Regions from separate parts of the Homo sapiens genome. Here region 1 is linked to region 2. A link means that fine-mapping ties the variant in region 2 to the expression of a gene that starts in the linked region. Tissue or cell type: prefrontal cortex. Region 2 holds a variant in brackets; the other region holds the start of a gene. All regions are shown on one strand. Distances are from middle to middle.

Region 1 (8,106 bases), 170 kb after region 2:
ACACTACTCAGAGAAATCAGACAAGACACTAACAAATGGAAAAACATCCCATGCTCATGGATAGGAAGAATCAAAGTCATTAAAATGGCCTTACTGCCCAAAGCTATTTACAGATTCAAAGCTATTTCCATCAAACTACCAACAATATTCTTCACAGAACTAGAAGAAAACTATCTTAAAATTCATATGGAACCAAAAAACAGCCTGAGTAGCCAAGGCAATCTGAAGCAAAAAGAACAGAGCTGGAGACATTGAGTTACCCAACTTCAAACTATACTACAGGGCTACAGTAACCTAAACAGCATGATGCTGGTACAAAAACAGGAACATAGACCAATGGAACAGAATGGAAAGCCCAGAAATAAGGCTGTACACTTACAACCATGTGAATCTTCAACAAAGCTGACAAAAACAAGCAATGAGGAAAAGACTCCCTGTTCAATAAATGGTGCTGAGATAACTGGCTAGCCACATGCAGAATATTAAAACTGGACCCCTTCCTTACACCATATACAAAATTAACTCAAGATGGATTAAGGACTTAATGTAAAACCAGAAACTATAAAAACACTGGCAGACAACCTAGGCAATCAATACCATTCAGGACATAGGAACTGGCAAAGATTTCATGACAAAGACACCAAAAGCAATCACAACAAAAGGAAAAATTGACAGTGCGATCTAATTAAACTTAAGAACTTCTGCACAGCAAAAGAAATTATCAACAGAGTAAACAGACAACCTACAGAATGGGAGAAAATATTTGCAAAATATGCATCTGACAAAAGTCTAATATCCAGCATCTATAAGGAACTTAAACAAATTTACGAGAGAAAAACAAACGACCCTATTAAAAAGTGGGCAAAGGACATGAACAGAAACTTCTTAAAAGAAGACATACATGCGGCCAACAAGTGTATGAAAAAAGCTCAACACCATTGATAATGAGAGAAATGCAAATCAAATCCACAATGAGATACCATCTCACACCAGTCAGAATGGCTATTAATAAAATATGTATAAAGAAACAGATGTTGGCAAGGTTGCAAATAACAGGGAACACTTATACACTGTTGGTGGGAATGTAAATTCATTCAACCATTGTGGAAGACAGTGTGGCAATTTCTCAAAGACCTAGAGACAGAAATACCATTTTACCCAGCAATCCCATTACTGGGTATATACCCAAAGGAATATAAATTGTTCTATTATAAAGACACATGGACATTTATGTTCATGGCAGCACTATTCACAATAGCAAAGACATGGCATCAATGTAAATGCCCATCAATGACAAATTGGATAAAGAAAATGTGGTATACATACTCCATGGAATACTATGCAGCCATAAAAAAGAATGAGATCATGTTTTTCATGGGAACATGGATGGAGCTGGAGGCTATTATTCTTAGCAAACTAATTCATGTACAGAAAATGAAATACAGTATGTTCTCACTTATAAGTGGGAGCTGGATCGTGAGAACTATGAGCACAAAGAAGGAAACAACAGACACTGGGGTCTACCTGAGGGTTGGGGGGGTGTGAGTAGACAGAGAACCAATAACTACTGGGTACTGGGCTTAATATCTGGGTGATGAAATAATCTGTACAACAAACCCCCATGACATGAGTTTACCTCTGTAACAAAACTTCACATGTACTCTCGAACCTAAAATAAAGTTTTTTTTTTAAATGATCATACGCAATAAAGAATTTTGACAGGAAAATAACCTTAAAAAATAAAAATATATAAAATATAACAAAATTATATAGGGAATGACACAGAGATAACTCAGAGAGAAACTATTAGCTTTGATAACTTGAAAAACAAAAACACATTGATAAAATTTTTATGCAAAAAAATGGACTTAATGAAATGTTAGCAGAGCAACAATAGAAGGGGGTTACTGCTAGTATTTTTAACAGAAAAAGTGAAAGTGGTGGTGACTTTAAGCAGACCAGCATTTACCTGTTGGCAGATGACTTAGGTGTTGCTTTTTGTTCTGTTGTGAACGAGCCACATGACTGGAGAAGTCAACTTTCTTCTTCTGGGAGAAAGGTTGCGTGGTCAGCCTGAAAAAATTACTAAATAAAAATTACCTGGACACTTGCTGAAAATACAGATGCTCTGGCTCGGGCCCAGAGATTCAGGTTCAGCAGATTCAGGGTGGTGCCTGGGAATCTGCATTTTATCGTCTTCAAGGCTGAATCTGATGAGAAGACAAGTTTGGAAAAAACAGTAAAAGATTGTTGCAGATATTGTGAAATGTTTTGCTAGCTAGCAGGGAATGTCAATATAGATAGCTTTAAGCAGAAAAAAATGTAAAACATTGTGTTTTTTAGTTTTTTTCAAGTAATATAACATAAGGTTATAGGGGGAAAATACCAAAATGAACAATAATTTTCCTGACTAAATAATGAGCCAAAACTCTTTCCCCTAGCAACCACTATTAAGTTGCTTGTGATTCCTTCCAGAACCACAAGAATATGTCTACATAATATTCTAATATACTACAGTGTATAAAGAATATGTATACATAAATATACGTAAATATACCTGGTCTTTATGTACCTATTTGTAATAAAAGGAAACATACTAGGCTATTCCATACCTTTTGTCACTTAAAGAATTTTCTAGGCAATTGTTATATGCCAGCACACACAGATCTACTTCCTTCCTTTACACAGCTGCATAGCTGGTTTTCTACTGTGTGTGAACTACAATAATCACTGTTGATGGGCACTTCAGTGGCTTTCAGTTTTCTGCTACTACCAAAATACACTGCAAAGAGCATCCTTTCTCAGATGCTTTGGTGAACTTTTGCAAGAATGTCCATGGGGTTACTTCTTAGCAGCTGGGTTTACAAAGGATATGTACATTTACAAATTTGATGAATATTACCAAATTCCCTGCAGAGAAGTTGCACTTATCTGTAATCTCACTATTGGCATATGAGAGTACTCATTCTCCATGCCCTCACCAGCACTGAGTTTCATCAGATTTTTTTTTCGAGACAGAGTCTCGCTCTGTCACCCAGGCTGGAGTGCAGTGGCCCGATCTTGGCTCACTGCAAGCTCCGCCTCCCAGGTTCACGCCATTCTTCTGCCTCAGCCTCCGGAGTAGCTGGGACTACAGGCACCCGCCTCCAGGCCCAGCTAATTTTTTGTATTTTTAGTAGAGACGGGGTTTTGCCATGTTAGCCAGGATGGTCTCGATCTCCTGACCTCGTGATCTGCCCGCCTTGGCCTCCCAAAGTGCTGGGATTACAGGCATGAGCCACTGTGCCCGGCCTCAAATTTTAGTATTTTATTCTGTAGTCAGGCAAAAACTCATGTTTTCTTTTTAAATAAATACGTCTCAGTTTTGACACTGCTATTGATTTAAAGGGCTTGAGAGATCTGTTCTTTTGCCCCTTCTACTACAGAGCTATGATCTACTTCTTGCTGTTCCCCATCTCTGCTGGTTCCTTTCTGAATCCAAGCACCAGAAAGAGTAAGAATTCCTTTCCCCCTTTCTCTAACCACATTTTTCTTGCTTTCTCACAGACAGATCCAGGTTATCATTTCCTCCTGCTGCTTTCACATGGTTCCCTGTCCTGTTGGTTGCAGGTCCAATGTCTGACACTATGAAAGGGCATGGAGGACTCTTGAGTTGATGACACTAAGCCTCTGCTCTGGGGCTGCCCCCAGTTCCTTGCAGAGCTCTTTCTTTTGATTGGGCCAGGAGATAAAGAGACATCAGCGTAAAAGCCCTGCTGAGCAGCAATCCCATTGCCTTCAGTGGCACCTAATCCACTTGAGCTCTTCCTGGCTCTCTCACGGGTCACTGGCTTTGAGGACGCAGGCTGCTGGGGTGGCAGTGCCTGCTAACAGGCCAGAGACTGCGCAGGACCCAGGGAATGAGAGTGGTGGCAGGAAAGGGAAGGGGCCTTGTTGACTCACTCGCTGGGCAGCAAGTGCTTAGTGACAAGCAGTAAACAAAGACAGCGGCAACAGTGCTGGTGGCAGGGAGCTCCGCGGACAGACTTGCAAGAGACCCCTGCTCCTTGTTGGAAAGTTGTCCCATGATGAAGGCCTAGACCTGGTCACGGAGACTTTTGGATGCAGCCTTTAACGAAGGACGCAGGTATTCCTTGGCATCATTCAGTTTTCTCCTATAAATCTGGTCAGGGAAAGGGCAAACTTCTTACTGGGTCTAGGTATCCGGAATAAGAAGAACACAGCTGGGCAAGGACCTGTGTCAGTGCCCTTTGTGGTATTATTTGGAGTATTATTTGTTCCAGGCCATTGGCTAAGCCTGATAGACATTGTATTTGTTTTTTAGCAATAAAGAATGGGCTCAGAAGAGAAAACATGGACTTTAGAATCAGACCACCCCTTGTTTGAATCACTGCTTTGCTATTCAGCATCTGTGCAAATTCAAATGACTCTTTTAACTTTCCTAAGACTCGTTTTTCTTACCTGTAAAATGGGGATAATAATGCCCCATGCGTTACGATGTTGCTGAGGATTCATGGGGTGACACGCGTAAGGCACTTAGAACATACTTGGAGCATTTGAGTAGCCCAGTAAATCATGGCTGTCACTATCTTTCAGAAGCAAGTGTTTTGGTTATTGCTTAAAGAGTATCAGTGGTTTAAAGTAAGAAGACTCAGGGTATGCCTAGCTGACTTCCAGAAAACAATGGAAAAGAAATGATTCACCTGGCTTTATTTGTATGCTTAAAGGAAAGAAAAAACTCAGTTGAGGTTTTCAACAGTGTAAACAACTTTTTTTTTTTTTTAAAGCAACAATTGAGTTCAGAGATGAGTCGTGTCTATTTCTCCTGGCTAAATCCTGTGATTTGCTATAGGCTGTAGCTGAAACCAATTAAGTAGTTCATTAATTCAACGAGAACTTACTTGGTATCTCCTGGGGCCACATGCCAAATGCTGGGGATGTCTCCCCCAGCCCAGAGGATCTTCCAGGTTGTAGGACAGTGGGGGTCGGGGGGCAGAATGCTGGACCTGCATGAAAACTGGCGGTGATAGCAAGTGCCGAAATGGAGGTGGCACGGGCTCCTGGGAGAGGTGTTGCTTGAGCATGGCTTTAATGCTAAGCGAACACTAGCAGGAGTTGGGAGCAGGGGGATTGGAAAAGGCATCCCAAGCAGAGAAAAGCACATGCAAAGGCCCAGTGGCATGAATAAGTAAAGCATGCTCTGGGAACAGCAGGCAGTTTGGCCTAACTTTAGTAAAGTGGGAACAGGGGAATCTGATAAGAAAGGAGGCTGCAGAGGTGAACAGGGGAGAGCAAGGAAGGCCTTCTATGGCCCAGAGTTCACTCAGAAGGTCCCAGATAGGCACTGGTAGTTTTAATGAAGGATGTGTCGTGTCTGCATTTAATATTAAGAAGATTAATCTAGTAGCAATATGGGTGTGGGATTGGAGAGGATGAAACCTGGAATGATGACAGATGGCCTAACCTAAGAAAACAACAGTGGAATGTAGAGAAGGGGAGGTCTCCAAGCTGGTGCTGCCAGCACTGTGAGCAAAAACAAATACATATGCATCTAATAAGTTCATTATAAATTTTACTGATATGAAGGATGTATATTGCACAATTTACAAGTAATAAAATATAAAATACTCTTTATTACAAATTCTATATAGCCATTTGATTCTCACAGCATGCATTTGTTGATTTTTGCTGAACTCTTATACCCTTGGTCAGCCTGTTTGCAATTGACCACTGAATGTAGTTCCAATATGAATGTTGGTTGATATTTTTGTTTACATTGACAAGTAAGAAGAAAGTGAAACAATGAAGATGATTGTCTTAACTTCACTCATCTGTCAATGACATGAGTGACTGCTGGATCAGATCATAGTTTTTGAATTTGGAAGAGTGTTTTCCCAATTTTTGTGTTATTCACAATGTAACAACTATGGACGCGACACACTTTTAGGTTTAATCTGCATGAACATTTTCTCCATCACTTTCTTAGTTTTCTTAGGGAATGAAAAAACAGCAAACCAAGCCCTAATTTGTAGCTTTTGCCAATTTTTGTGGTATAAATACTACCACCATGGCCAATCACAAGCTCCCAATGTGATATCGCTGAACACAAAGGTGGAAGGGCTGTGCACCAGCACACCATTACACAGTATTTCCATCATAGAAATGTATTTCATTTAAATAAGTTCCAAAGCACAGACAACAGTAAAATGCAGTAAAATAATTTGGAAATGGTGAGTTTCAACATATTGTTAATATAACTTATTTAATTGGAGATTTTTATAATACTTTTTGGTAATGGCTGTGTTTAATGACCAGCTTACAAAATTTCTGGAAATTTAACAATTGGCTCTCACAGGCCAGTAGGAGCCTTCTTCAGCATATCACAGAATCCAAGAAAGGTTTAAGGAGCAGAATACAGAGTGGTGAGAAAATGACTCATGGGTGCAAATGAAGGGGGCACGAAGGAAGAATTAGGAAGAATACTTCCTTCTCTCTGGGGATGAAGCTGTCACTCACCAAAATGTTGGACTTATTAAAAAGAACACCATGAATAGATGACTATGAATTCAACTGCTCAGGAATAGCAAGGGCTGCGGTGTGCAGCCCAGGACAATGCTACCTGCAGCTCCATTAGTGAAGTCATTTCTGGTCTGAAACCCCAGTTTTGCTGGCTTGTCTCTAGCCTATTCCCTGCCCTCTCCATATACTCAGGATTCATAATATGAATAGCTAGGATTTATTGAAAAACTGCCATATGCCAGACACAATAACTCATGGTATAAACGAGTAAAGAGAGGAAGTAACTTGCCCACGGTGAGGTGGGATCAATCCAGCTCTGACCTCGGAGCCTGCTCTTCCAGCCACTATGCTTTTCTATTCTCATTCCCCTCCTGAATTGTATTCACCCTGAGATATCAGTGTTTTTAGCTGCTTTCCTGGCAGAAGTCTGCTTTCGAGGCTGATTCCTATTCCTCAGGCTTCCTTTTACTGGTCGCTGGCAGCTCTACTGTTAACTGCCCTCCCTTTTTTTTTCTTGCCTTGGCTGTAAGCCTCCTTATTCCTGTATTTGCTTGAGCTATCATAGCCCAACATTGTTGGAAATAGAGTAGGTAGTGAAGGGAGGCAGGAAGGAGATGTGTAGGATGGTGCACAGGAACCAGTTCCAGGAGGGCTGGTGCCAGGCAGGAGGCAGATCAAGGCTGAGCTGTCAGAACTCACTCTTCAATAGATTCAAGATGGGTTAAACAGTGTCTGGCTGGAGAGTAAATGTATTAGACATTTTAAAAAAGTGCCATCTAGGAATTTCTTTTGTTTCTTCTATCAGTATCATTTTTGTATGATGCCAGTCCAGAGTGCAGGCAGCATCTGAAGTATTCACTTGTTAATTTACTGAGTCATTCAGCCAGTGGGGGAAGAAGGAGCTCCAGATGCGAGTGTCCCCACAGAGCCTGCAGAAGGACAGGAGGCAAGGGGGTTGTGGTGCGTCTAAGGCTGGAAAAAGGCCATGGGGGAAAGAGGAAGCTGCTAGAGATCAGTCCAAAGCGGTGGGCCTGAGGTCCTGCAAATCTTGCTCAGGATCTGAGCTGATCCTTTGGAGAATAGAAAGTGGCTGAAAGTTTTCACGAGGTGTGACATGGTCAGATTTGTGTTTTAGGAAGAGGACTCTGCAAGACAGAGAATGGATCAGGGCAGGGGCAAGGTATGGTTGTAGGAAACCATTTTGTAGAATTTACATTTCAGTGGTCATTCAGGGGAGGGTGCTGGTGGCTTAGACCAGGTCAGTGGTGGTGGGGTTGGAGAGAAACAGGCGGATTTTAGAGAGATTTTGGAGATGGTGATTAACGGGCTGGGAAGTTGAGGGATGGGAAGGAGACAAAAATGTCGTCTGAATGTTTGGCTTGAGGGGTTAGGTGGTGGGAATGCCATTTGCTGTATTCAAATAAGAGAGGTTGAAAGAGGAGGAGGTGGGGGGAAGGTGAATTCAGCTCTCTACATCTAAGGGGGTTGTCTAAAGGACATCCTGGGATCACCAAGCAGGAGCTCAAGAAACGGGTCTGAGCTTAAGACATGGCTGTGGAGGGGATGGACTGATGGTTGGTAACTTTG
Region 2 (8,106 bases):
CTTTTACTTCTGATGGCCCTCTTGGGCCCCAGGGGAAGCCTTCCCTCATCGAGCCTGGCAGAGGCAGGCTACACCCAGTGGGCAAAAGCCCACAGGCAGCAGGGCTCAGCAGGGGTGTGGCGGTGCGTCCAGGCCGCACACAGGAGACTGGGCATCACAACTTGCTTCTTTGATGACTGCTGCTTCCTTACTTTGCAGGTTTCTGGATGAAGTTCAGGCATACTCAAATGTCAACAAGATGAGTGTCCAGAATCTGGCAACCGTTTTTGGACCTAACATTCTGCGGCCACAGGTAGAGGACCCAGTAACCATCATGGAAGGTAAGTGGGAGGTGTACCTGGTGGCCCTGGGTGCTGCCGGGGTCTGGGCTCATCTTGGTCCACGGCAAGTCCTTGGAACCATCCCAGCCCAGGGCCAGGCCAGCAGGAGGGGTGGCTCAGGTGGCACATCTCCATCTCTGGGGACTTGGCAGGAACTTCTGCAGACCTCACCCCCGACCCCCATGAGGTTCAGCTATAAGATAAAAAAGGAACTTTGCCCTGCGATGGGCAGCAGCAGGTCACTGGGTGCAATTAGAATAGCCAGGGGTTTCTGTGGATGGAAGAGGCTGGAGGGATGGGAGAGGTCAGCACTTTTGCCCTTGAACACAGACATGTTTGCTTTTCTTTTACAATTAAGCAATTGTCATAGGTTCCTGGATGTCAGCTTTGCAAACCCTGGAGAATTTCTCTATGATAAATAACAATAAGTGATTAAAAATAGCAGCAACAGCAGCCGCTTTCAGTAAGCTTCTACCAAGTGCTTTGTTTGTATCATCTCATTTCAGGCTTTACAACCAGCCTGTGCTGTGGTAATCGCCCCCACTTTACAGATGAGGAAACTGAGGCCAAGAGAGGCGAGGGGACTCACCAGAGGCCAGTCAGCCAGACTTAGCAAAGGGCACAGGTGTAGGCTGCCATAGAAAAGACAGCCCACCTCATAGGGCCCATGGAACACTGTCCCCAGTGGAGTATGCATGAGAGACGTGCTGCTCAGACAGGAAGCCCACAGCTGAGGCTGTTCTTGCCCTTATCCCATGTTGAGGGACGTGGCGGAGTGCTTTTGCTCAAGTCCGCACTTTGGTCAGCCCTGGCTGGGTCTCCCACCCCAGGGCCCCTTGAGGCCAGGAAAACACAAGCTCCTACCTGCCTGGTGGTACAGATGCTTGAGGGAGGAGGCCTGCCCTGCCTGCTTCATGGAGTTCCTGCTTCACCTAGGTTCTTGGCCTCAGAATTCCTTCCTTGACTTCTTCCAGGATTCCTAGTCAACTTCAGTGGGAGAGTCCACCCTGGCACTCAGCCCTCCCTCCTACCGGGGGACCTCCTAGCGTCGGGCCTTTGTGGTGAGGGTGGCAGGAGGGAATGAGGCAGCTGGATAGATGCCCTGGTCCTTCCTGCACTGCCCACCTCCGCTGCAGGCCCCCACCCCACCACCGTAGGAACTGAGTCCCCAGGACTGGGGGCTGCATCTCAGGGGCCTTGGCCTAGACACGGGGGATTGTGTGTGTGCGAGATTATATGTATGTGGGATTCTGGGGGGTGAGCAGGGTGCACTATGTGTGCAGTTGTGTATGGGGGAATTTGGGGAGGCTGCGGAGGGTGCATTGTGTGTGCAATTGTGTGTGGCGGATTTTGGGCAGTGGGTGGGGTTCATTGTGCGATTCTGTATGGGGGGATTTGGGGAGGCTGGGTAGGGGATTTGTGTGTTCACTTGTGTGTGTGTAGGGGCTTTGGGGAAACTGGGTAGAGTGCATTGTGTGTGTAATTTTATGTGTGTGGGATTTTCGGGAGTGGGCATTGTATGTGCGATTGTGTGTTGGGGGATTTGGGGAGGCTGGGTGGGTGCATTGTCCAGTTGTGTGTGTGTGTGGGACTTTGGGGGTGGATGGGGTGCATTGTACGTGTGATTGTGGGGGGTATTTTAGGGGGTGGGCGGGGTGCATTGTGTGTGCAATTGTATGTGTGTGCCCCCACACAGGAAAGATGGCTCTATTCCCTGTCCCAGAGCCCTATGCTCCCAGAGTGTGGACATTCAGGCATGGCAGTTGTCAGCAGCACAGAGGGGTGACGTGGGGCAGCCGAGAGAGTTCTGGCATCTCAGGTCCCAGGTTCCAGTTCCAACCTGCCACCTGCTCACCGTGCAGCCTTGGTGCCTGCTTCCTCACCCCACCCCAGCTGGAGGGCGTGAGCGCAGGCACAGTGCTTCCTCCCTGCTTGCGGCTCTGTGCCTGAGGAAGGCGGTTCTGCGGCCCCATCCTGCTGTCCTGCCTGGAGTTGGAGGGTGTGTGGTCCTTTCCTCTGGGCGGATGAAGGCTCCCTTGAGGGGCGGCCTGGCTCTGGGGACAGGGCCAGCTCCCACGAAGCTGCAGCTTCTCCATGACTGGCAGAGCGAGCCTGGGCCGAGTGGCTGGCAGCAAGGCCCTTCTCCGCCTCTCTTCCCGGCAGGCACTTCCCTCGTCCAGCACCTGATGACCGTCCTCATCCGCAAACACAGCCAGCTCTTCACGGCACCGGTCCCGGAAGGGCCCACCTCCCCGCGCGGGGGCCTGCAATGCGCAGTGGGGTGGGGCTCCGAGGAGGTCACCAGGGACAGCCAAGGAGAGCCCGGCGGCCCCGGCCTGCCCGCGCACAGGACCTCTTCCCTGGACGGGGCGGCCGTGGCGGTGCTCTCCAGAACAGCCCCCACGGGGCCGGGGAGCCGGTGCAGCCCTGGGAAGAAGGTGCAGACCCTGCCCAGTTGGAAGTCCTCCTTCCGGCAGCCGAGGTCCCTATCGGGAAGCCCGAAGGGGGGCGGCTCATCCCTGGAGGTGCCCATCATCTCCTCCGGCGGGAACTGGCTTATGAACGGGCTGTCCTCCCTGCGCGGACACCGCCGGGCCTCGTCGGGAGACCGGCTCAAGGACTCGGGCTCCGTGCAGAGACTCTCCACCTACGACAATGTGCCCGCGCCGGGCCTGGTCCCCGGCATACCCAGCGTGGCCAGTATGGCGTGGTCCGGGGCCTCGTCCAGCGAGTCGTCGGTGGGGGGCTCACTCAGCAGCTGCACGGCCTGCCGCGCCAGCGACTCGTCTGCCCGCAGTTCCCTGCACACCGACTGGGCCCTGGAGCCCTCCCCGCTCCCCAGCAGCAGCGAGGACCCCAAGTCCCTGGACCTGGACCACAGCATGGACGAGGCGGGCGCGGGTGCCAGCAACAGCGAGCCCAGCGAGCCGGACAGCCCCACCCGGGAACACGCGCGCCGCTCCGAGGCCTTACAGGGGCTGGTCACTGAGCTCAGGGCCGAGCTGTGCCGCCAGCGGACTGAGTACGAGAGGAGTGTGAAAAGGTAACTTGCTGCCCCGTGGAGCCTCCTGTGACGGGGCGGAGCCTGCAGGGAGAGCCGTGCTCTTGGCACATGGGCGTCGGCCCCTAACCTCTGGGCCGCTGGCCCTGGAAGCCAGCCTCAGAGAGGGGAATCCTAGCTCTGGGAAAGCCCTAGGACTGGCAGACTTGGCACACAGTCAGTCTGGCACGCAGTCAGTCTGGCACGCAG[TCAGC/C]GCTGCAGAGGCCTGCTGACTCCACGCAAGTGGGAATGCCTGCCCAGCCTGCCGGGGACCTTTGCTGCAGGGGTGGAAACAGAGTCAGTGTGCAGTCTGCAGCCAGGGAGGGGGCGGCCCCTGGAGGCAGGTCCCAGGCTTGTCCCAGTACAAGGGCTCATAGCCTGGATGCTGAGTGCCAGGAAGTGCCCAGGCCCCAGGTCAGCCAGGCTGGAAGTGAGGACCCCTTCCTTGATGGGATCAGAATCCAGTTTCCCTGCTGAACCAAGCCCTCGTGTCCGCCCTTGTCACAGGATGGTTGTGCTGCACCCTGAGGCTTACAATCTCACTAACAGAGGGCCAGAGTTCCAGCCTCCCATGAGGACCGGGGTTGCCCTCTGCAGTGAGGAACCTCAGCTCCTGGAGACCAGGTTCTCCAGCGCAGGGCGTTTCCCTCAGCATCTCAGACTCCTTGGTCCCTCTGGCTGCAGGTCCCCGTTAGCTGGCCGACCTGTTCACCTGGGTCCCACCCACTAGCAGGGAATTCCTTTATCCATTAGAGGCAGTGGATGGAGGTGGAAGGCATTCCTGCTGCCCACTCTGAGCCTGTGATTTCCACTGGGAGCTGGAATGGCAGCCCTTGCCCTTTTGCTCTGCTGACAGCTGTTCCCTGGGTGATGGAGAGTGCCAGGCATGTACAGGCACCATGTCTGCAAAAGGAAGAGAAGGAGAGGGACCTTGAGGGCAGAGGCCTCTGCCATGGGGGAAGTCACAGCAGGCAGTGCCTGAGCCAGGGCTGGAAGGACCCATAGGATGGAGCCGAGAAAGGAAATAGCATCAGTAGAACCCAAGGGCCTCCAGAAATATAGTAGAAGATGCTATCTGCTGCAGATGAGCTCACAGACCAAACTACAGGGTACATGGGAACTCTTACCATACAGAAGGCTGTCCATGCAGAAGGCTGGGCTGGACCAGCTGCGCCAGTTGTGTGCTGAGTGCCTGGAGCTCCTCTGGCCTGCTCTGAGGCCTGGTTTCTCAAGGGAGATGCAGGGCTCTTTGACTCCAGGTCAGACTACTTGGATTCTAGTCCCAGCTCCACCAGGGATTGGCTGAGTGTCCCTGGCAGGATCTTTGGGCCCCAGTGACCTCACCCATTTGTCCTGAGTATTAAGTGACTCACAGTGGATGAGAGCGCTCGGGAAACTTTGCTGCTCGCATTGACTCCTGCCTGGTGGCTGGAGGTAAGATGAGGTTCCCAGAGGAAAAGGGATAGCAGTGGTAGCCCTTGTGGAGGGACTGTACTCGCTAGCAGAGTGGTCTGGGTCGTTGTCTTGGTTAGAGGGAGGGTCTAGAGTGAGGAAGGTCTCTGAGCACAGGAAGGAAGGTGAGGGCATTAGCACCTGTCCTGTCCAGCAGGTGATTGGGGAATGTGTGTCCTGTTCTCTGGAAGTATGGGCCATCGGGTGGGGGGTGGGGTGAGGCTGGCCTTGTCCTGGCTCCCAGGACTCTGGTCAGAGCCCCTCCCCAGGGCCCTGCTGGGAAGTCAGCCTTCCTTCGTGCATTCCCAAAAGAGAACCTGTTTTCTGTGAAGTACCAGATGCTGTGCAGGTGGCCACAGTTGGGGTGAAAACTGATCAAAATCTCTGTCCCCATTCTTATTTGGGTTGCAGGGAGACAAAGACCATAAGCACGATACATTTTTAAAAATACACGGTGTGTTAAAAGGGAGATGAAGGAGGGGAACATAGAGCAGCATGGAGGGGAGCGGAGAGGAGCCTCAGGGTAGAAGGTTGGAGGGCCCTGGGAAGGAGACCCCAGAGCTGCAGCCAGCACTGACCCCAAGACCCCTGTAGTGGGGGAGAGTCAGGGGCTGGGGACTGGAGATGTGTGGGGAGGGGGCAATGGGTGGGGCCTTTTGGCCTGGGCAATGCTCTGGTTTTTCGTGGAGTGAGATGAGAATGAAGTGAGAAGCCGCTGGAGGGTCTTGGCACATTGGGCACTTTGACAGGTGCACCTGGGTGCCATGCCGAGCAGAGCTTGCCAGGGGACAAGGGCAGAACAGACCAGTTAGGAGGTGTGGGGGTCTAGGCCTGACCTATGGGGGGTGTGGCCCTATGGGGCAGCAGGTGGAGGTGGGGGAAGCGGCCAGGTGCTGAGCATATTTTGAAGGTAGAGCCAAAAGGTTTTGCTAACTGATCAGATATGGGACCGAGAAAAAGAATGGACTTAGGGGAGGACATCATTGTTCAGCTGAGCAGCTGAGGGAAGGTGTTCACCAAGAGTGCACCAGGGCTGCGGAAGAGTGGTCTGGAGATGAGGGTCAGGACCCTTTAAGTCAGAGATGCTGATGAAATGGTGCAGGGTCATCAGCGTGTAGTTGGGGCTTGGAGTCTTGAGCCTGACAGAGAAGGAAGAGGGGAGGTCCAGGCCCGAGCCAGGGGCAGCAGTGGGGAGGTGGGTGGCTTCTCTCTGACAGCTGTCTGTGATCCTGGTAGGGAGGGCTCAGGCCATGCTTCAAGCTCAGTGATGAGGATGGAGGCTTCGTTTTGGTGGGTTGAGGAATCCGTGTTTATTCATCATGCACCACGTACCAGGTGCTGTGCTGGCCCCTGGCATGTTCCAGTCCATGGTTACCAGTGCTCTGAGGAGCAGTTACCCTCTGCATTTCACTGTGGCTTGTGTCCTGTCCACAGCCATGTGGCTCAGAGGTCACCAGGCTGGGCATTAAAATCCAGCATATGTTCCCAGGGGCTGGGCTCAGGTGTGTCCCTTCGGAAAGACAGAAGCTGGTTGTCTGGTCAAAAAGATGGCCATGCCAACCTTGGCACACTGCAGCATGAGCCTGCATGGAAGCGTGTGGTATAGGCTCTGGTGGCACAGAGGAGCACCATTGTGACCTGCTGGGGAGGATCACAGGAAGTAGCATCATGGAGGGGGCGCTTGAGCTGAACATGACGGGAGAGCAGGAAGGGAAGTGACTACCCCACAGGATCTTCTGTGGGTCACCACGTGTGGCTGGATCATGGGGACAGTGTGGGGAGCTGCAGGGAGCTGTGGGAGGGGAGGCCACAGCACAGGAGCAAAGGCCAGGGGACAGTCCGAGTCCCAACCCTCCCCATGCAGGGGCCTGTACTGTTCCTACCAGCTGGCAGGGATCCCATACTGCACTGGAGGGGCAAATGCGGACCCAGGGAGGCACCGAAGGCATGGATCATTGTGTTGGCATTTCGGGATCACAGGCCCAGAGGAGCTAGGGGAGCTATGGCAGGGGGCAATTTGCTCATGGGTGAAGTACTGGGGTTCTTGTGAGGAGCAGATGAGCCAGGGTTTCCTCCTGCCGCCATGGCTTGGCCTGACCCCTCAACCCACAGTGAGCACAAGCATGGTATACCCATGGGACAGTGAACCTGGCCCGCAGAGTCTCAAACAGCATCTCTCCTTGACTTTTCAGAATCGAAGAAGGGAGTGCTGACCTGAGAAAACGAATGTCCCGGTTAGAAGAAGAACTGGACCAGGAAAAGAAAAAATACATCATGCTGGAAATAAAGCTGCGGAACTCTGAACGGGCGCGGGAGGATGCGGAGAGGAGGAACCAGCTGTTGCAGAGGGAAATGGAGGAGTTTTTTTCGACCCTAGGAAGCTTGACTGTTGGGGCAAAAGGTGCCAGGGCCCCAAAGTAAAAGGAATGGCAGAGCTCACTTCTGTACCACGTCTGCTGGTCTCCAGCCTTGTATGGAGTTAGAAGCGTCTGTATCTCTGGAGCAGCCAGGCGCTCTGGAGCCAGCTGGAGAGAGAGAGATCCTGATACCTCTGTGGGGACTGTGGGGACTTTTGGGACCCCACACACTCCAGGTGGGATCAGATGCTGCTCCAACCATGCAGTTCCTGGTGAGGGTCAGAAGGGGACGGTACCAAGAGTAGCGCTTAGCCCTTACCCAGGAAATATCCTTCATGGCCACAGAAATGGAGGGCGCCCAGGATCCAGGCAGCCACCGGGAACAGTCAGCTTTCTTTATTAAATGTGCTCACAAAGCATGGTGCCTTGTTACCTGGCTCATTTTTCATGCCTCGCAATACAGGACACAATACAGGACCACTCCTGTTTCTCCAAGGGCTAGGAGCCCCCTGAGGTATGCCCCTGGGTGGAATAGCACAGGCATTGTGAAGTGGGACGTGAAGCCCCCCAAGGGGCAACAGCCTTGTGCTTTCAGCTGTCTCGTCTGCATGTTCCAGGTGGGATGCCTTTCTTTACTCCCCCCCGCCCCGTAGCCATCTGGACCTCTGCAGCTAGTTTCTGTCTTGGGAGGTCCCCTGGGCTTTCCACCATGGCCCTAGCTCTGCTCCAGGGCCAGAGCCTGAGTGGGCACCCAGCACAGATGCTGTGCTTGGGCGAGGTGTGGGCAAGTGTGGCCACTCTACAGGAGGGCTGAGCCAAGGCCATGGGAAACGTCTGTTCACCGTACTCCAGGTGCCTATGCCTCACTCTGGGCGCCTGCCCAGCTCCCTTCCAGCCCCCGCTTCCCTGCTGTTCACCCCCCTACTCTGGCTTATCC

The links. PIP is the estimated chance that this variant, and not a neighbour inherited with it, causes the effect.
Region 1: it holds the start of FRMPD2, and the variant in region 2 is fine-mapped to the expression of FRMPD2 in prefrontal cortex (GTEx, PIP 0.97).

The regions. Positions count from the first base shown.
Region 1 is chr10:48,270,563-48,278,668 of GRCh38, reverse strand. FRMPD2 (FERM and PDZ domain containing 2) reads left to right here and starts at 3,973. Exons shown (of 29, transcript NM_001018071.4): 1 at 3,973-4,126. The coding sequence starts at 4,102.
Region 2 is chr10:48,445,518-48,453,623 of GRCh38, reverse strand. ARHGAP22 (Rho GTPase activating protein 22) reads left to right here. Exons shown (of 10, transcript NM_021226.4): 8 at 199-320; 9 at 2,484-3,363; 10 at 7,005-7,588. The coding sequence ends at 7,233. Among named protein-coding and RNA genes, the nearest start is that of ARHGAP22-IT1, 62 kb to the left of the region's middle. RefSeq lists an enhancer at 7,555-8,106. The variant TCAGC/C (reference allele first, on the strand shown) is at 3,571.